2 linked regions of the Homo sapiens genome follow. The protein of the gene in region 1 purifies or fractionates together with the protein of each later gene. This does not show direct contact. Each region holds a gene or a part of one and is shown on either strand. Other genes may lie near its edges.

Region 1 (3,500 bases):
TCTAGAATTGGCTGGGTGTGGTGGCTCATGCCTATAATCCCAGCACTTTGGGAGGCTGAGGCAGGCAGATCACTTGAGCTCAGGAGTTCAAGACCAACCTGGCCAACTGGGTGAAACCCCGTCTCTACTAAAAATACAAAAAATTAGCTGGGTGTGGTGGCTCCTGCCTGTAGTCCCAGCTACTTGCTGAAGCAGAAGAATCGCTGGAACCCGGGAGGCGGAGGTTGCAGTGAGCAGAGATTGCGCCACTGTATTCCAGGCTGGATGACAAAGCAAGACTCTGTCTCAAAAAAACCCACAAAAACTCCAGAATTATTTTTGCTGTGGGTCAGATGTGGGGTCCTGCAGTAAGAGCTAGGTTTGAATGATGTCTACTAGCCATGTTCCTTGAGGAAGTGACTTCATTTCTCTTCTCTTGTGCCTCATTGAAGGGTTCCTATGAAGGTAGTGATATATCAGTTCCCAACTCAGAGGCTCACAAGAGGATTTAATGAGATAATGTATGGGAAATGATGAGCACAGTATCTGGCACTTAACAACCGGCAGCTGCTGTTATTCCAGAGCCAGGCACACAGCGGGCGTTCCACAGGAGCTTGCTGAATGAATGAATCACCCAAACCAACCTCCCTCACTCACATTTGTAAAAACTGAGGTCTTTGGAAATGAAGTAGCTTGGTCAACATGGCCAAATAGTGCTGAGATGCCAAGTTAAATGAGGTGGGACCTACGAGGGAACATCACGATGGGCAACTGGCCCCTGATGCCAATGTTCTTCTACTACCTGGGCTGCCACCAAGTGTCTCTGATGCCTAGGCCTAGGCTACCCTCAAGGTAACTCTATGGACCTCAAGCAGCCAGTCCCAACAGAGACCATTACTGTTTTGGAGTCGTCAGTTAAGGACAGACTCTTAAGACCTGGGGAAGGGAGCCAGAAATCTGAGAGGCAAGCTGTACCCAAGGGAAGGACAAAAGCTTATTTGTTTCTTCCTACCATGCTGAGAGAAAGAAAAGATAATGTGAGTGTTTCAAATAAGACAGGGTCCACACAGTGGGGCAACTCTCACATGGAAATGTGCTGACGTCATCTTTGAAAAGACTCTGAGTCTCGCCTGTCTTGGCCATGAAACGGGTAAGTGCCCGCTCCACATCGCGCCTCTGGGATGCAGCCTTCTCCCGCAGGACCTGGTAGTCTGACACGGGCTCACGGTACGTCTACGAAGAGAGCAGCAAAGACACTGGGGTGATGCCGAAGTATCATTCTGCTTTCATCAGCTCCCTGGCTTGCTGTTGCTATGCCCTGTTCTCTAAAATGACCCAATACCAGGCCAGGCACAGTGGCTCACACCTGTAATCCCAGCACTTTGGGAGGCCAAGGCTGGTGGATCACCTGAGATCAGGAGTTTGAGACCAGCCTGGCCAACATAACGAAACCCCGTCTCTACCAAAAATACAAAAATTAGCTGGGTGTGGTGGTGGGCACCAGTAATCCCAGCTACTTGGGAGGCTGAGGCAGGAGAATCGCTTGAACCCAGGAGGCGGAGGTTGCAGTGAGCCGAGACTGCATCATTGCACTCCAGCCTGTGCAGCAGGAGCGAGACTCTGTCTCAAAAAATAAATAAATAAATAAAATTAAATTAAATGACCCAATACTATTAGTTAGAGCCAAGATCACCAAAGCACAGTAGAAAGGTGGAAAAACAATGTAACTACATTAATATTCATTTCTAATTAAAAATTAAGAAATGTACAAATATTTACTGTAGAGATTGTCTTGGAGCCTTCATTCAGCTCCCATGACAGATGGTCTCGGGTCTAAGAGACGCATCGTGAAGAAAGAGTGGGAGTGCCCCCAGGGAAGCCCTGATGGGGACCACAGGTTCCATCAGCGCAATGTGACCTCCTGCAGTATGGGAGTGGCTGCCTATGTGGACTTGTGGATTATACCATCCCATCTTATTAAATCAATCCTCACAATATGGATACATTGTTCCAAAAAGATTCCCTCAAAGAAAGAGAGGCTGAAGATCTTATTATACGTGCAAGTGACCAAGAAAACGGCAGGCTGCTACTCTTCCTCCTAATTATGAGCTTGCTGGCAATCAAGTTATGGAGTGAAAATGATTGAGATCAGAATGAGAAATGAGCCAAAACTTTTTATTTTATTATTTTTATTTTTTGGAGACAGAGTCTTGCTCTGTCACCCAGGCTGGAGTGCAGTGGCGCCATCTCAGCTCACTGCAACCTCCACCTCCTGGGTTCAAGCGATTCTCCTGCCTCAGACTCCTGAGTAGCTGGGACTACAGGCACGTGCCACCATGCCCAGCTAATTTTTGTATTTTTAGTAGAGATGGGGTTTCATCATGTTGGCCAGGCTGGTCTCGAACTCCTGACCTCAGATGATCCACCCACCTTGGCCTCCCAAAGTGCTGGGATTACAGGTGTGAGTCACCGCGCCCAGCCGGAAAACATTTTAATTGGTAATGGCAACGGTGACATTTTAACAACGACCAATAAAGTAACTACTCTTCATGATACTGAGATACCATTTTTTTTTTTTTTTTTTTTTTGAGACAGAGTCTTGCTCTGTCACCCAGGCTGGAGTGCAGTGGCGGGATCTCTGCTCACTGCAAGCTCCGCCCCCCGGGTGCATGCCATTCTCCTGCCTCAGCCTCCCGAGTAGCTGGGACTACAGACGCCTGCCACCACTCCTGGCTAATTTTTTTGTATTTTTAGTAGAGACGGGTTTCACTGTGTTTGCCAGGATGGTCTCGATCTCCTGACCTTGTGATCCACCCGCCTCAGCCTCCCAAAGTGCTGGGATTACAGGCTGAGATAGCATTTTTAAAGAAGGCACCTGGAAATGTTTCTTTGTTGTCACCATCAGTTCAAGTGTGTCACCTATACAGTTCTCACATCTGTACTTAAACAAAGAAACAGAATTTTCTGACGTGTTAAAAATCTTCCCAAAAGGCTGGGTGTGGTGGCTCACACCTGTAATCCCAGCACTTTGGGAGGCCGAGGCGGATAGATTACCTGAGGTCAGGAGTTTGAGACTAGCCTGGTCAACATGGTAACACCCGGTCTCTACTAAAAATACAAAAATTAGCCAGGCGTGGTGGTGGGCACCTGTAATCCCAACTACTTGGGGGAGGCTGAGACATGAGAATCGCTTGAACCTGGGAGACAGAGGTTGAAGTGAGCCGAGATCACACCACTGCACTCCAGCCTGGGGGACTGAGCGAGACTCTGTCCACCCCCCACAAAAAAACCCCAAAACTTCCCAATAATAAAATGAGTGGATTTTGAACATATTGTACTTGTTAAAAACATTAAAATGCAAAATCTTGTAATGATTCCTAAGACAACTTTTGGCACTCAATAAATTAGAAATTTAATAGAAAATTTTCAACCAAATTCTTTGGATAATGAGTAAATGAGGATGAAAAAAATTAGTTTTATGATTTATTAAGAGCAGCCAATGATGTTACATATGTTTGTGA
Region 2 (3,500 bases), on another chromosome or scaffold:
ATTTATGGTATTTGTCCATTACCTGAATGTAAACTCCATAAAGGCAGAGGCCTTGTTCATCTTACTCTTAGCTGTATCCCCAGGCATTAGCATGCCGCCTGGCATTTGGAAGATAGTAAATATTTGATGCTTCTGTATCTTTGTTCCTGTTTTTTGCCAATGATTGGAATGCTGTCTTGCACACATAGTTATAGTTATTGAACTACTTATCCTTTAAGTCTTAGCTCAGATGTCATCTGTGATACCAGTTTTAATCTCCTAGACAAAAGTTTTTTGCTCTTGCTCTTGTGTGCTTCTAAAGCCCATGATACATGCACTATTTGTAGAGTAAATCCCATGTTAGGTATTTAGAATATTATTTGATTATTTGAATATAATTGATGTCACTGTCTTCTATTAGGCTGAATTGCTATGTCAAGGACCAGCTGGCTCTTTTGTGTGCTCAGTATCTACCAACCAACCTATTATAGTAGATATAGTGAATTCTCAGTAAATGTTGAATTGAGTAGAAGTTGTCCTAATCGGCCGGGCGCGGTGGCTCACGCCTGTAATCCCAGCACTTTGGGAGGCCGAGGCGGGCGATTCACGAGGTCAGGAGATCGAGACCATCCTGGCTAACACAGTGAAACCCCATCTCTACTAAAAATACAAAAAATTAGCCGGGCGTGGTGGTGGGCACCAGTAGTCCCAGCTATGCGGGAGGCTGAGGCAGGAGAATGGCGTGAACCCTGGGAGGCGGAGCCTGCAGTGAGCCAAGATCGCGCCACTGCACTCCAGCCTGGGCAACAGCGAGACTCCGTCTCAAAAAAAAAAAAAAAAAAAAAGAAGTTGTCCTAATCAACGGAAATAACCAACCACAGACCAGTTTTCCCAAATCACACTTTAAAAATCATAAAGGTACTTTCCAAATTATAATCTTACTTTATGTGTTTTCTATTAACATACGGTCATTATTCTAAGGGCAGGAATTTGAGAGCTGTGGAGCACAAGGGGCATTTCCTCAGATTCTATTTTGCTTTCTTGCTGGGCACTGAGTAGCCATCTTGTCTGAGGGAAGTATTTCCAGTTTGAAATGCATATCTCTGTTGTTCATTACTAACCAACATCCCTTCTGGCCCTATTACTTCCCTCTAGCTTATCCAACTAATTTCATATGTTTATAGAAAAGCTCCAAGTTGAGGGGGGAACCTTATGGAAATTAACACAGTATACATGAAATACATTACTAATTCAGCTGTATTGCTAATGAAAATACATCAAAGAACTTTTGTAGCCAACATTAGGAACCCAGTCACCATTTGTAATAGTGAAAGTCATTCCCCATTCTAAATAGCTGACTTACAAATAGGCTTTTGGAACATATCCCATTTGTAAATTGGGGATTCCTTTGGCAAAATGTTTATTTTGATACTGAAAACCTTTTTATTAATGGTGTTAAACCTAATTGATGGTATGGATTACGAAGAGAAAGGGAGAGAAGAATCTAGGAGTTAAGGTTTTGTTTTTGTTTTCTTTCAGAAATGGCTTAATTTCCACAAAGTACAGTTTTAGGGTTGACAGATTTTTTTTTTTAAATTTATTTCGGAAAAAAATCAAACCTAGAGAAAAGTTACAAGAATAGTACAATGAACTCCCATTTATATCTGCCGCAGATTCACCAGTTGTTACCATGTACCACATTTGCTTTGTCGTTCTTGCTCTCTTTTTATATTTGCAGAGTGGGTACAAAGTCTGGAAACAGAGATTATTATTTTATTTACAGATTGAAACTCCTTGATTACATCTTCTGCCTAGAGCAGCTATTACCAGCCTTTTTGGCACCAGGGACCAGTTTCGTGGAAGACAATTTTTCCATGAATGGTGGGGGGAGGGGATGGTTTCAAAATGATTCAAGCACATTACATTTATTGTACACTTTATTTTCCATTATTATTACATTGTAATATGTGATGAAATACTTATACAACTCACCATAATGTAGAATCAGTGGGAGCCCAGAGCTTGTTTTCCTGCTACTAGAGGGTCCCATCTTGGGGTGATGGGAGACAGTGACTGATGATCTCATCAGGCATTAGATTCTCATAAGGAGTGCACAACCTAGATCCTTTGCATGTGTGGTTCACAGTGGGGTTTGTGCTTCTGTGATAATTAAGTGTTGCCGTTGATCTGACAGGAGGTGGAGCTCAGGTGGTAATGCAAGCGACGGGGAGCGGCTGTAAATACAGATGAAGGTTCACTCACTGGCATGCCGCTCATCTCTTGCTGTGTGGCCCCATTCCTAACAGGCCATGGACTGGTACTGATCTATGGCCCCGGGGTGGGGACCTCTGGTCTAGAATATGTCAAAGATGCAAGTTTATTTAGTTAAAGTCAGTGGCAAAACATCACAGGTATGATTAAATTCAGGTTATATACAGGGATAGATGGAAATGCTATGTTAATGCACTGTGTACATTTCTAACAAGGAAACCTGACATGTTATTATCATTAACATATCAGGCATTGTTATATAATATCAAGAATCCACTGTGTAGATCTTTTTCCTCATCTCCTTTTTTTCTCTTTTTTGTTCTCTTCCTATTAAAATTATTTTTATTGTTGAACCATTTGAGAGGAGGTTGCACACATCAAGTTCCCTTACCCCTAAATACTTCAACTGATATCTCCTAATAAGGGCATATTCTTACATTAGTATGGGGGATTCAAGAAATTTAATATTGATCTTATTGTTTAATGTACAGTTCATGTTGAAATTTTTCCCATAGTGTCAATAATATCCTTTAATATTTTTCCCATTCCAATATTATACAATGCATTTTAATTATATCCCTTGTATTGTTTAATCTGAAACAGTTCTTCAGCCTTTTTAATTTTTGGGTTTTGTAGAGTACAGACCCTTTGTTTTGTAGGATGTCCATCAGTTTGGATTTGTCCAGGTGCTTCTTTGTAATTAGATTCAGGTTTTGCATTTTTGGCAAAAATCCCATGTAAGTGATGGTATATCCTCAGTGCATCACATCATGAGGCAGTACGGTGTCATTTTGACCATGTTGTTGATGTTTATTTGGACCACTTAGTTAAGGTTTTACCTGCTAGTTTTCTCTATTACAAAAGGTATCATAGTCCCCTTTGTTATTACTGAATAATCTGTTGGAGACACTTGGAGACTGAAAATTTCCTCCTCCAAACGCTTACAGAATGGTTTTAGCATTCATTGATTACTCTTGCCTGAATCACTTACTACACAGAATTGCAAAATAGTGTTTTTCTAACCATCGTTCCCTCTCCATTTATTAGTGGGCATTCTAGTCTGTTTTAAAGAAGACCTTGTCCTATTCATTTTGATATCAATATGATATAATGGATTCTTTTTTATTAAGTAGGTTGTTTTCTATTACCTGCCAGTATTCATTTTGATGTTCCAAATTAACCCACATTTGGTTAGTGGAAACTTCTTCACATTAACTCATTGGTTGTTTTAACATGCCCCCATCATTTGT

The links. Proteins that work in one complex are often made in the same cells at the same time.
Region 2: the proteins of TAF8 (region 1) and MEF2A purify together in Homo sapiens (affinity purification with western blotting, with the first as the bait; one study listed by BioGRID). This does not show direct contact.

The regions. Positions count from the first base shown.
Region 1 is NC_000006.12:42,064,024-42,067,523, reverse strand, and holds part of TAF8 (transcription initiation factor TFIID subunit 8), read right to left. Parts: intron 1,213-3,500; coding exon 1,065-1,212; intron 1-1,064. UniProt on the Homo sapiens protein: The TFIID basal transcription factor complex plays a major role in the initiation of RNA polymerase II (Pol II)-dependent transcription.
Region 2 is NC_000015.10:99,572,484-99,575,983, forward strand, and holds part of MEF2A (myocyte-specific enhancer factor 2A), read left to right. Parts: intron 1-3,500. UniProt on the Homo sapiens protein: Transcriptional activator which binds specifically to the MEF2 element, 5'-YTA[AT](4)TAR-3', found in numerous muscle-specific genes. Also involved in the activation of numerous growth factor- and stress-induced genes.